Homo sapiens: one gene and its partners. The protein of the gene in region 2 interacts with the protein of the main gene of each other region in a pairwise test. Each region holds a gene or a part of one and is shown on either strand. Other genes may lie near its edges.

Region 1 (3,500 bases), on a different chromosome or scaffold from region 2:
TTATGGACATAGATGTTATCTGAAGATGCCCCACCCCTCCTTCCCAAGGCTCAATCAACTAGCTTCTTTCCAAATAATTAAATGGGGCAAACTTTCTATTAGAAAATATCTACCATACATCACTAAAAAAAGGTCTGTCATTGATTCCCTAATGAAATATCAGTTAATTACTTAACCTTTCTTAATGAAATGATTAACATTTCAACAAACAAGGCGGAATGACTTCGCATCAAGCTGTAGATTACCAGTGACAGTGGTAACTATGTGTCCTCTACCATTGCGCCGTCTATTCTTTCAATCAGCTCCATGTTTCATCTTTTATAGAAATTCTTTATGCAGTAGTAGAGACACTCTACTTTTAAAATTTGGCCCATAAGAGTTTTTTTTAAGTGCCTCAGGGTCAGAACAGAAATTTTAAAAGTTTTTATTAGACGAATATCCCCAATGCTACCTAAACCTACAGAAAAGCAAACTGTGAAGTTCTAAACGTAAAAACAATTGCCAACTTTTTGGCAGCTATTAAAATAAAGCCACACCTAAAGCCAAAATGGAAATTAAAAATTAGGTGTGGGCATTATGGACACATTATTACCGGGTAACTTCAAAAGCCACATTATTAATACAGATGAAAAAATGTCTCAACAACTTTTATTTAAATAACTCTTTTGATCTTAGTGGTTAGATCTTTAGTTGAAGCCCTGAATATTTAAATAAGCCTCCTTAACATTTTATCTTCCTTTATTTCATAATCTTGTAGGATGCCTTCTTCTTAGGATTCTGGTTTCTTTATTTGTGTGGCATCGTTGGCTAGGCTATTTCCATCAATATTCGTGCATGCCCCATCACATACGATAGAGAATTTCCCAAGATGCTTGGGAAAATCAAAATACTTCTGCCAGCAGGGTTAATCCAAAGAGCAAACAGTTACAATTTTAAAATTAAGATGGAATACTCAGAAAAAAAAATTCTAGAGAGTCATCTGACACTAATTGGTAGCTACAGCATGACAACACCCATTGGGAAACATGGATGCAGGCAAGACAAAATTCAAAAGGAAATTATCTGATATTGACATTTGGTGAAAACCACCGATGTTCCAGGTTGTTCCTATCACGTTATTGAACTGTGAGGCTCTTGTTCTGCCTCTGTTTCTCTAAGTCTCCAAGGTTTCTTTTTGTGCCCTCCTGAAAAAGGAGCTCCGTTTTCTTCTCTTAGGTTTCACAATGGCCAACCAATTCAATTAAACTCTTAAGAAGGGTTGCAGGCTTTCCTCCAACTCTGATAATTGACAGGTCCAGTTTTCCCACTTTGGTGGGCATCAGGACCATGTGGGATGCGATTTAAAAACACAGATGCTGGCCCCACCCCAGATACGGCACATCCAGGAGTCGTGCAACTGTGTCTGTGTTGGGAACAACAGCTCTGCTGTGATTCCAATACTCGTGCTTGGTTAAAAACCACCGTTTTTCATTCGTAATAAAAATCCAAATACATTAAAAACAACACAGGATGGGCCTCAAGGTAAAATCAAAGAAATCATCAGTAAAATCCAAGTGAAGATAGAGATTTCAGTTCCACACATCTGAAAGAATAAATCACTTGATTCACAGGTCTCTAGCATGCATCAGAATTATCAAGGGAAGTTTGTTATAAATGTACGTTACCATGTCAATCAGCAAAAATTCTGACTCAAGGATCTGTATTTTAATAACCTACACACACACACATACACACACACACACACAGATACAGAGGTAGGTGAGCGAGGACCTCACTTTGAACCAGGCTGAATTAGGACCAACTGCAACCTCCCTTCACTTCAGACATGAGCATTCACTTCCATCTCTGTGCTCACCCCCAGGAGGGGAAGCCACCAGTGCCACTGGTCATCAGGAGGTAGGCACCAGGGCAAAAGAAACTCAAGCAAAACTCACATCACACCCTCCCCCAACAAAAGCTGCGGTCACTGTCCTGAGAGCACCAAGAATATCTTTTAAAAATGTGAGTAATAACAAAGCCCTGTATCATTGGATCCCTAAGCTCAAAGAACATATGTTAAAATATTACCCCTAATTCAAAAGCAGGGAACCTGGAGCAGAGAAAGTCACATTATGACTCAATTGCACAGCTGGGAGGGAGAAAGGACACCTCGGAAATTCAGTTTGATGCTAGAAATATTCTTCAGTGTCCTAGTAAACAAAGTGAATCACAAAATTAGCTAAAATCAGAGCATCTGGTAAAATGTGGATGTCCACCTGACTTACAAGTAATAAATAAATATATGTCCAAACATAAAACTCAGAGAAAATGTTTGTCCTAAGCAAATCTATTCTATTGAACATAAACAAGGCCCAATAATCCCACATTCAGATCCATTTTTCCCTCAGTAAATTGTCCTATAACATGCTAGCCTCTGATATCTTCAAACTGTTGAAATCAAACAGAATGACATGGGCTTTCTATTCAATGATCCCATTTCAGCTATTTATCTGAATTAGCAGCAGTTTGAGGAAATACACTCATCACAACATGATTCTGAGTATAGAGAAGTAAATAGTAAACAGAACACTGGAACACAACTGTGTATGTATTCATATTCCTTTTTAAAAAAAAAACTATTTTATTAAAAATACAATTTGGAAGGAAAGTGCAATTAGCTTTGCACAGGCACTGCTGAGATGTTCCCGAACACAGCAGACATATGTAAATATTTCGTGATATCAGTTCCATTTGAGTAGACCTGTCAAGATATTTACAGGGCTTGACAGTACTTCTGTCTTTAATTAAATTTTTGCCCAGATACTTTAATATAATTTAAATAGATTATTAGTTGTCAGAATCGAATATAAATTTTGTTTACGATTTAGTTACTTTAAGTACTCAGACTGAAGGAACTAATTTAACCCTACAACTGAGCAGCTTTAAGCATCAAGGCCAAACCACTAGAAAGCTCCCACTGCCCTTTGCACTCTACCAATAACCTTAAATTATTACAACTGAATTGTAAATTTCATGGCACTAAACTGAGCCCCCCTCCCCTCCTTTTGAAATAAAACAGCTTGGGGAGGGTCATGAGGAAACACCCATTTACACCTGTTCAGGTACTAGGTAGGTTCTCCCTTTCAGGCACTCGTTCTCACAGCGGCTGGCTAGATAGGAAACATTTTTTTCTCACTCTAAGTCCCATAAAATAACTACCGAACAAACACCTGTTGTGTACAAGGCAGGGCATGTATTAAAGACTGGCATCAGGGCATTGCAAAAAGAAAAACAAGCCTTGCAGAGACATCCACAAGCCAATCTGGTCAATAGATTTCACGACTGGGTAAAACAACAGTGCGTGCGAAGAACACAGCTTCTGGCACAACCTTCTTGTGAATGGCAGCTGACTTCTAAACAAGGATTGAAAAATGCCTTAGCACAAACTGACTGTAATTAATAAGAATAATTTATTAAAGAAACAAAGAACACTGTCTAATTGTCTTTCCTGACTGCCATGC
Region 2 (3,500 bases):
TACCTTGCAGAAGTTATACAAACAATAAAAGAGCCGCTAGGCGGATTGATAAAGTATTATTGGTTATGTACCTAGAAAGATGCTGCTAAAACACTGGTTACCTGGGTTGAAATGTATACCACCAAAAATAAAAATAAACATATCAATTATTTCTCATAATAACAGATAAAAGGAAACCCAAAACTATTAACAAAGAGTAAAGAGTAAAGCCTAAATTGTAAATGAAAAAGACAGATTAATAATATATAGGTATATATATACATATATACACACATATATTTACTATGCCCATGTGTGTATATCTATATACACAAAAATACACATACCAAAATAAACTATAGCTAACACGTAATTTTCTCTAATAGCCTTCAAACTTCAACTTAATGTTACCTCCTCTGCCCACACCTGACATCATTGACCACAGCAACACTGAGTCACTAACTATATAGCACTATTCTCAATCTATAATAAATAACATTTGTTTTGGTTTACTTGTTTTTTTGTCTTTTTGCTATCCTATGCTACTGTATGGTAAGTCTCATGAGGACAGAGTTCATAGCTGTTTTACTCATCACTTCATAACTACTGCTTAACATGCATAACATGTTTACACATAGTAGTGTTTACACATAGTAGGTACTCAATACATAGTAGGTACTCAATACATGTTTATTAATCAAAGAATAAATACAAATGAATAATGAAGCCATCAATCAAGAGGCTCTTCTTTAACAAAGATAAATAATATTACTCAGTTCTCTAAGAACTTAAATGAATTTATAGTTATTTACTTGCTAATCTGTCCACATTTATGAGCAAATAATAATCAATTACTGACATAATTGTTAAAGTCCTCTTTGTTGACTGAATCATTCGAGCAGGAATACTTACATCTTTAGCACTTTTTTCCTGATCTCAACCTCCTTGTCAACAGTGGGATCTTCAAAGAGTTGTACCCTGAAGTTGCTCTTTCTGAGTGGAGTACCACACTCAGGGCAGTTTCCAGCTCCTCTCACAAACAGTAAATCTACACAACTTTCACAGCTGTAAGGACAGAAATAAAACATAACATTTAAGCCAATGTTCAAATCTACAACACATCTGAATAGTTTGCCCCTATGGGATAAGGAGAGTGAGACTTGAAAACTAGTCACTTCTATTTAAAATCTTACCAAAAAACTTTCTGGAAAATGTTCTTTTTCATTTGGAGCTTACTTTTCAGATATAGGTATCCCAAGTGATACCAGTTTAGTTTTACAGATCAAACAAATTTATAAATTAAAACAAATTGAGTGAGAGACTAGGAAGAAGAGCAGGATAGGGAGAAGTCAAAGAGCATGTAAAAGGCTACTGTATGGTCACCTCCATCCCCAGTCCCAATATCATCCATAGACCTGGGCAAGAGAAGCCTCTGCCAGGGGCCTGCTCTTTAGAGAGCCCTATATACCCCAAGCACTAAAACAGATGTTTTTTTCTTCCTTTCCTTGTAAGAATGTCTTTTGAAAGTTCAGTAATCAACTGAGCAAATGACAATTACAAGAAAGAGGTGCTAGCTGAATGAGGCCTCACTGGCCAGAGGATAAAGAACTTTGAGCGCTCCAGTATGTGTGAGGGAGAAAATGAACACAACTTCTGCCATGAGAAATCCCAGAAAGAGTGGCTGCTTATAAAAGCTTTATTCGGTTAAAGTTCGTTGCCCCAAATAAAGCAAACCGAATTCCCAGGCAAGCCAGGTTTCCCAGATACCTGCATCCCCTTTTCTGGTAGTGCAACATTAAGAAGGGCTTACAACTTCCTAGAAGACTTGAGTTGAAAAAACAATGAACTGGAGAGGCAAACCTCTCTATAACCAGATTCCTGGGGACTTGGTGGGATCTGTTAATATACTGTTTTAGATGGGTCTAGGTACCACCCCAATCATCCCTGCCCTACCCCAACAGATCCATACTACCACTCAGTCAGGCAGGTTACAAAGATGGATGGGAGGAGAGAGCAGTTCCTTTAGCCTCTGAGTCTTGAGGGTATAGGCTGCTGGCAACTCAACATGCTGTGTAGGAAATCAGGCTGGGCCAAGGATGTGGCTTGATTTATAACTTTTAAATATTCGAATGTTTTGATAAATATTTAAACATTTGTAGTCCTCCAGGTGTAATCTTGCCCAATTCCATATGTGTTAGGACCACACAGTCCTAATCACTCCTTTTGTTGGCAATATCTGACATCATCTTATTTATTTCTGTGTTCTGTCTCCTAGACAAGGAAGTACAGTATATTTCATAAAGACAGAATGTTGCCTATCTTGTTCTCTATCCGCAGTGCCTAACGCTAAGTACTCACTAAGTAAACTTCACAAAACAAAAAAATGAATACAAGACAAAGGGAAAAAGAGAAATTCTAATGAATAGGGAAGAGTTGATTTCTTCCAAGTGTGTATTTAACTTACAGAATAAGCTAAATAAGAAAAGTAATAAGAAAAATAAGAATTTTTAAGGTTATTAGTAAAATACTAACATTGATCTTTAAATATATACATACACACACAGACATATATATACACACATATGTATATATATACCTATTTTATATATATATATATATATTTTTTTTTTTTTTTTTTTTTTTTTGAGAATGCAGTGAAGTTGTCACAGCTCTCTGCAGCCTTGCCCTCCCAGATTCAGGCAATCGTCCTACATCAGGCTCCTCAGTAGCTGGGATAACAAGCACACACTGTCACGCTCTGCTAATTTTTTTATTTTTTTGTAGAGACTGGGACTCCCCATGTTGCTCAGGCTGGTCTCGAACTCCTGGGCTCAAGCGATCCTCCTGCCTTGACCTCCCAAGGTTCTGGGATTATAGGCATGAGCCACCACTCCTGGCCTATATTTCTATCTTAATAGTGTCACTAAAAAATAACAGGGAAAAATTCCAAAGATCATAGTGTCATTAGCAAGATCAACTAAACCCCAGATAAACCACTCTGGACTTAGGAAGTTTCAGAGTGGTGCATTTTCACTATTCTTTGTGGTTAGAGGAAATTAAACCCATCCATGGAAGGTGAAAACAGGCAAACTTTACAACTATACTAACTAAAGATATTTATAAGTAAGCATCTATCCAAAATAGTCAAAATTACAGAGCCACAAATAACATTAATATATCTCAAGGTCTTGGAGATTAGACTCAATCAATAGTTTAGTCAGCAAGGTAATATAGAACATTAATATTTCTAAACGTTATATTGTATATTAGACATAATATATTGTTTCCAAAATCAGTTGTACATCTCCACTTTTTATAATCTGCCTTGTCATAATAATTTAAATAGTATTAAAATTTTTTATTGCAGTTTATTTTCCTACGTAACATTTTCCATTTCTAATTTTAACTGTGAAAAGAATATTTTTTCTTTAAAGCTTATAAAATATAGAATTATATAGAAAAATAACTCAAAGTTCTACTTCATTGTGTTCTGTATCTCACTTCCCACGGGTAATATGCTA
Region 3 (3,500 bases), 9.8 Mb from region 2:
CATTAAACAGAAAAACTCATTCCAGAAGGATAGCAGTTTTTTGGCTTGTTGCATTTGAATTAAGAACTTGGAGGCTGTCTGTGAAATGACAGCACTGAAGAAGAGGCTTCTTCTCTGTACAGTGAAATAATTATACTCTGAGATGTAGTGATTTTAAAGAACCTGCATACAAATGCCATTTTACAAAGAATTGTGTCTTATGCTTCAATTGATGGTTTCACAAAATGCCATTAAAAATGGACGATCAGATTTGTCTTTCCCATTTTTTTGAGATCTAGCAATATTGAACTTCGTCCTCATCTCAGCAGAGCACAGGAATTTGTGTCATTCATTTCCTCTTGCATGCAGGATACAGACTGTACATAGTCATTAAAAGACAGGTTTACAAATTGCCTCTTGCTACTTCACAGGTTTAACAATGAAAGCACAAGTGACATGCAGGTTGCATGCAAGCAGATGTGTTCAGCATTAAGAATGTGTTTCTCTGCATAGTGTGATGGTTATGTCATTATTCACTCCTGCACTTCAAAACAAAGACGCTAAAAGGGAAAAAGTAAGTGTGGCATTTGGGTGATAGCACTGAGAATCTATTGACAGAGAGTTCCACAAAATGCCGATCACTGAAGATAACCACTTATCTACATCCAGTAGGATTTGCTTTCATGGTGAAATGGTGTGTGTGTTCACTTCAAGTGACAGCGAATAATACACACTTGAATGCTATAGAAGCTATCCAAGGGAAAAGGAGGCTTTAGGAGTCTACAGGCTGGAGAAGGGTCAGTGATGAGCATACAGAAAAAGATAAAACAGTGGGGTCCAATTATCCTACCAATGTCTGACTTGCTTTCCCTTTGATCTGGTTGAACACTACTGTATTTTTTTTTTTTTTCAGAGACACTAATGAGAATGTATCCTGGGGAAATCTTGGAGCATAAGGTGGACCAGGGTCCACAGTAGAAATTTCTCTGCCTAGGAAATTTGTGAAAAATACATTTGAGGAACACAATCAAATGAGAAAGGAAATCCATTATAGTATGTGTTCAATTATAATGATCTATATTTTGGTGGTAGAAGAAAACCTCAAGGAGATTACTGTATTTCCTTTCCTTAGCAAACTGGCTGCTCTGGATTAATACAGTAATAAGAGAGTTCTCTATAAGTAGAAAGCCATTCAAATTGGCATCCATAAGCTTTAGTTTAATGAATCGTAATAAGAAGAATGGCTACTATTTTCAGGTGCTTCCAATGTAAGGCATTTTCACATATTTCATTTAATCTTCAGAAGATTCCCACAAGGAAAAATTTTATTGTACTAATTTGATGGATTTGGAAACTGAGGTTCAAAAAACGAAGTAACTTGCCCAAAAGTGCTTTTCTGTTAAGTTGTAGGTCTGGGTGTTTCAGCATCCTGGATTGTTTTCTTATAATGGATATCCATTGGGATTCTTAGTTTCCAGCCATGGGTGAAATACAGCAATGAAGGGAGTAGGAAAGTACTCAAGTCTCTATCATTATATAGAAAGTAAACCACCAGCATGGACTCAGCTGAGGCTCATAGATTGCCTGTGCTACTTAATGTAGACCACCTGTTTGATTTCCTGAATGTGGTCTATGTAATAGGTTTTTGAACTGGGGCTCTCACTCCTGATCAGAAGCCAACGTGAAGAAGGCTTGGTTTGGGGGCTGCAGGGTACCTGTTGGTGTGCGAGTTGTTGTGCATGAACCAGCTCCGGTTATTGTCCACATACATTGCCCAAGCTTTGTCGTCTTTTCCTAACATCACATCCTTCATCACGTCCATGCGAGCCACACCAAAGGCAGGATCAGGGTGGTTGTCATAGCGATCTACCGTGAGCTCCCAGTAGTGGATGCCCTTGGAGAAGCCAGTCTTCCCTAGCACCACCCGGTCATCATAGCTACTACAGGTCACTGTCAGGTTGTCATTGGAGAGGATGATGTCCGAGTGCGCCGAGCCAGGGTCGAAAGCAAACCAGGCCACTGGGAACAACAGAAGGGAATCAGGTTATTAAGACAGACCCAACAAGCTCAGCACCATAACATACTCCTGGGCGGGTGAGGAGCGTTGTGTAGCGTTTTCATGCTGCCATGCAGGAAGGAGGCGTCCAGGGCCAGGGCAGACAGGGGCACGTCCTGGGAGTTGGTACTCTCTGCACCAGAAGCAGACGGAGGACACACGACCGATTCAGCAGGGGTTACCTGGCTCAGACTGCACTCCCAACCAGGTGATCCGGGAGTGAAGTGGCATCGATTTTGGAAGGTGCAAGTCCCTTCACCTGGTGACTGGCAGAACAGTGCACCAGAGACATAAAGGGAGAGGGGATGCGCTAAGATGCCTGTGTAACCCCTGAGGCGGGGAGGCTAGGAGCTAGAGTCCTAGATGGAGGAGGGATAAAACACATGGAGTGAAATCAGGAAATATCCCTTCGGCAGAAGTGCTAACATCTAGTCGCTTTGAAGTCTTCCTCGGCTCTAGTGAAAGCTCACAAGCTGCGAAGCTATAAGCAACATAAACTAATTTTCATGAGTGATTGTGACTTGCATGTAGGACAGGTTGCTGTCTGCATAACTTAAAAAACACAGTTTGCGTGCTACTCCTGAAACTAACACGTCAGAAATTTTGCTGGAGCAGTAGGAATTTCGGACATTAGGTGCAGATAGAATGATGTCTTTGTACGCATTGTTACGCCCCAAGTTCTAAATGCCACCTATAAATATCACACTCGAGAGATGTAATTGCTGATTTATTAAACCTGTGAGACACCTCACATGCACTTTGGTCTTTGCTATTTGGTAACAGAATAAGGTTATTCCATACCTGCCAACAGCTTTTTAATGTCAACTGTTGTCATTCCAAGTGAAAGGCATGGGGGAGAGAGATAGGAAGCAAAATTGACATGGATAAGAAAATGTGTCTCTCTTGATAGACTAGTACCCCAAAAGGACTCAATTTAAAATGCCACATATACTAAACAGGTGCTCTCTGACTTGTACCTTTACCCACATTTAGTGCTCATAAAGAGTGCTTTGCACTGATGTAAAAGAAAACTGGGGGAAAAGTAAGGTTTGAGGCATAACATTAAACACTACAGGCATCTTTTCCATTTTTTAAGAGTTTGAGAAACTGCTATAATAGGGTTAGAATGACAATTAGACAATTTTATTGACATAAGACAAGTTGCCGCCATTTATTTTGTGAAGGAAATTGAGCACACCAATCACGTAAGTAAAAGATAATTACAATAGGTATACTTGCCTAATTGAGAGTAAGGTGCAGATTGTGTCTCAAAATTGCATCCTATAAAGAGATACTACACATCAACGCTATGAAACAACAACCAGGTTGATAAAAATTACTTGTATACGCTTAAAAAGCACCAGTTGAATATAGATACCAGAGGCCTGATCCATGAAAAAACAAAGCCCTTTTTATATTATTTAGTTTGTTGGGTAAAAAACTGCCCCTCTGCTCTTTCAAAATG
Region 4 (3,500 bases), on a different chromosome or scaffold from region 2:
AATAAGAAGTATAGGCATTCTCATACATAACCTCAGTAAATACCATTAAGAAAATAATTTTAGACATGGTGCAGTTGCTCATGCCTATAATCCCAGCACTTTGGGAGGCTGAGGTGGGAGGATGGCTTGAGCCTAGGAGTTTGAGACCAGCCTGGGCAATATAGTGGCAACTCTTCTCTACAAAAACCTTTAAAAATTAGCCAAGTGTGGTAGTATGCACCTGTTGTTGCAGCAACTCGGGAGCCTGAGATGAGAAGATTGCTTGAGCCAGGGAGGCCGAGGTTGCAGTGAGCCCAGATAGTTCCACTGCACTCTGGGGGACAGAGTAAGACCCTGTCTCAAAAAAAAAAAAAAAAAAAAGAAAGAGAGGAAATAATTTTTTAATATGATCTAACACCCAGCCTACTTACAAATTTCCCACAATAGTTCCAAGACTATTTTTATAACCTTTTTTTTCTTTTTACAGGATCCAATCAAGGTTCACGTATTGCATTTGGTTATTATTTCTCTTTAGTCTGTAAAAATCAAAAGCAGTTCTTTCGAAGGTTTTTTTTTATGACATTGACTTTTTAAAAGACTAGGCCAGTTGCCATGTGCAATGTCCAGCATTCTGGATTTATCTGGTTCTTTCCTTATGGTGTGGTTTAATTCCTCCATCGGTACTTTTTCAGTTATAACATACTTCAGAGTATTCCTTTCCTTTATATTTTTTATAAACTGGAAGTTAGATCTAAAGTCTTGACTAGATTCATTCAAGTCAAACATTTTTGGCACAAACACTTCATAGGTAATGTTGTGTGATTCATATAGTGCCATGCCAGAAAGCACATGCCACTTTGCCCCGTCTGCTGATGACGCTGGATTTGGTCACTTAGTTAAGATAACCACTGGATCTCTTCCTTATGAAGGTATGTCAGGAAGTAATCCATTCATTGGTGCTTTGGCACCATGGGTACTATCTCATCCCCCAAAACTTTTCACCTAATAGTTTTAGCATCTATTGATGATCCTTGTGCTATTATAATGGCAGTCGCAAAATGATTTTCTAATTCTGTTATCCCTCTTCTACTTATTTGCTGATTAATCTTACAGAAGGTTATTCTTCTGTAATCCCCAGACAATTTTAGGTATCTAGTACATATGCAATAATTTTTAGACAGTTTCAGGAGGTTTAGAGACCATCAAACCCCAGCATGGAGCCTGGGTGATGAGGTGTCCTGTTTTGCATGGAAGAAGAGCTGTAGCTGAGCTCTTCATAGTCCTTTTATTGTTCTTATTTTGCAAGTAAATTGCAAAATAAGTTCCCAACCCAAAGATAACACAGGCTATCCTTCAACAAAGAAAAACCTCAGCTTTTAAACTTCTAGGCCATTTGGCAAAGAGGCATGATAAAGGGCTTGAAAGCCCACAGACACGCCCAGTACCACTCCTTTTTCCTCTTTCCAAACACTTGCAGTATGTTACAACTGAAAAACTGCTGAGCCAGGCTTATTTCCTCAACAGTAAAGCCAAGGAGTTGGACCAGGCAATTCCTAGCATTTCTTTCTTTTTTTTTTTTTGAGATGGAGTCTCACTCTGTCACCCAGGCTGGAGTGCAATGGCACGATCTCGGCTCACTGCAACCTCTGCCTCCCGGGTTGAGGTGATTGATTCTCCTGCCTCAGCCTCCTGAGTAGCTGGGACTACAGGTGCATGCTACCACACCTGGATAATTTTTGTATTTTTAGTAGAGATGGGGTTTCACCGTGTTAGCCAGGATGGTCTCAATCTCCTGACATTGTGATTCACCTGCCTCGGCCTCCCAAAGTGTTGGGATTACAGGTGTGAGCCACCGTGCCCGGCCAATTCCTAGCATTTCTACCAGCATTACTAACATGTAGGAACTTGATATTACTTTCACTTGACAGTTAAATTCCTTGAATCCTTCATTTGAGCTTTGAAGGTGCTTGATTTTCCCCTCATTATGTCTCTTAAAGTCACACATACCTAGATCCATTAGTGCTTCCAGTTGGAATTTATTATCAGCACTATAAGAATCTCTTATATTTATGTAGTCCTTTTACGTTATAAAACACTTTTTATGTATTATTGTACTAGACCCTCAATGAGTGGACGTTATATCCCTGTTTTGTTTACTCTTGGGTCTTATAGACTGGGGGTTTTATTTCTGTCCCATTAATGTCACTACTGACAGAGGCCACTGAACTCTGTTGTGATGGACTTTCACCATACATAATCATTAATAGTATTGATTTGCCTGTAATTCAGGTTGCTTCATTCCAGCCTCGCAGTCACCTCTGTGCCCTGCTGGTTGTCTTCCCAGCGCTGCTGTAGTTGCCTTCCATGGATCTATAGGAGAGCAAGTCCTCCAGGTACTGCCCTGTGACGATGTTGTTGAACTCTGTAGCACGTGTGTCACTGTGGCTGGTTCTGCTCACTTCCTCTTTTGCTGCCACTTTTGAATTTAACTCTTTGTTTGTGGTTTGGACACTCACTGGATTTGGAAACCAGGGGTTGTGGGTTCTCTCCTAGATTTCCGTCTGTGTACCAGGCTTGTGCTTAGCACTTTTCCCATAATTCTTTCACATGACCTGCTTAGAAACCCTTAAAGGTAAGTATCACTCTTCCCATTTTACAGATGGATACACTGAGGCTCAGTACTTAAGTGACTTCTGTATTGTCACACAGAGTCAGGGGCAGGAGGCTGCTCTTGGGTTAGATGTGCTGAGGCTCATAACCTCAGCCTGGAACTGGGTCAGGACTACAAAGGTAAACAGAAGCAGAGTCCTTTCTGTGTGTCCCCGCTCCCTGTACAAGCCAAGGCCTCACAGCACATAGCAGCCACAGCCACCTGAGGATTCCTGCCATCTAGACGAGGCAGTTACAGCCAAGAACAAGTCCACTGAGGCTAAGCTGTGCTCCTCTGGAGGGCTGTGTTTAGAGTCCAGCCTTCTAGGGGAAGCAAATTAAACCCAAACTATAGAACAGCCCAGGGAAATACTCACAAAGGGAAATGCTGACAGTCAGACTCCTGAAGCTTCCTGATGCTTCTCGAGTTTTGGTAAAGAACCTCAGTGCTGTTTGTTTGTTTGTTTTTTAATGTTTTCTGGTTTTTTGTTTGTTTTGAGACAGTCTCTTATTCTGTTGCCCAGTCTGGAGTGTAGTAGTACAATCATGGCTCACTGTAGCCTCCACCTCCCAGATTCAAGTAATCCTTCTGCCACAGCCTCCTCAGTAGCTGAGACTACAGATGCATGCTACTACACTGGGGTATTTTAAAAAATTTTTAAATTTTTTTAGTTGAGACAGGGTCTCACTATGTTGCTGAGGCTGGTTTCAAACTCCTCGGTTCAAGTGATCCTCCTGCCTCAGCCACCCAAAGTGTTGGATTTACAGGGTGAGCCATGTCACATTGCCCTCTCTTAGTTCTTGAAACCTGAAACCTTGAGGAGCAAACAAAAGGGGTCTCTTGGCCAGGTGCAGTGGCTCACGCCTGTAAT

Evidence for each region. Proteins that work in one complex are often made in the same cells at the same time.
Region 1: the proteins of MNAT1 (region 2) and FOXP1 interact in a two-hybrid assay, tested with the Homo sapiens proteins (one large-scale study listed by BioGRID and IntAct).
Region 3: the proteins of MNAT1 (region 2) and TRIM9 interact in a two-hybrid assay, tested with the Homo sapiens proteins (one large-scale study listed by BioGRID and IntAct).
Region 4: the proteins of MNAT1 (region 2) and TRIM26 interact in a two-hybrid assay, tested with the Homo sapiens proteins (one large-scale study listed by BioGRID and IntAct).

The regions. Positions count from the first base shown.
Region 1 is NC_000003.12:71,573,729-71,577,228, forward strand, and holds part of FOXP1 (forkhead box protein P1), read right to left. Parts: intron 1-3,500. UniProt on the Homo sapiens protein: Transcriptional repressor. Can act with CTBP1 to synergistically repress transcription but CTPBP1 is not essential. Plays an important role in the specification and differentiation of lung epithelium.
Region 2 is NC_000014.9:60,793,761-60,797,260, reverse strand, and holds part of MNAT1 (CDK-activating kinase assembly factor MAT1), read right to left. Parts: intron 1,045-3,500; coding exon 892-1,044; intron 1-891.
Region 3 is NC_000014.9:50,980,106-50,983,605, forward strand, and holds part of TRIM9 (E3 ubiquitin-protein ligase TRIM9), read right to left. Parts: exon of another isoform or gene 3,317-3,500; coding exon 3,275-3,316; exon of another isoform or gene 3,177-3,274; intron 2,861-3,176; coding exon 2,837-2,860; intron 2,395-2,836; exon of another isoform or gene 2,218-2,394; intron 1,999-2,217; coding exon 1,695-1,998; intron 1-1,694. UniProt on the Homo sapiens protein: E3 ubiquitin-protein ligase which ubiquitinates itself in cooperation with an E2 enzyme UBE2D2/UBC4 and serves as a targeting signal for proteasomal degradation.
Region 4 is NC_000006.12:30,199,907-30,203,406, reverse strand, and holds part of TRIM26 (tripartite motif-containing protein 26), read left to right. Parts: intron 1-2,268; 5' UTR 2,269-2,372; intron 2,373-3,500.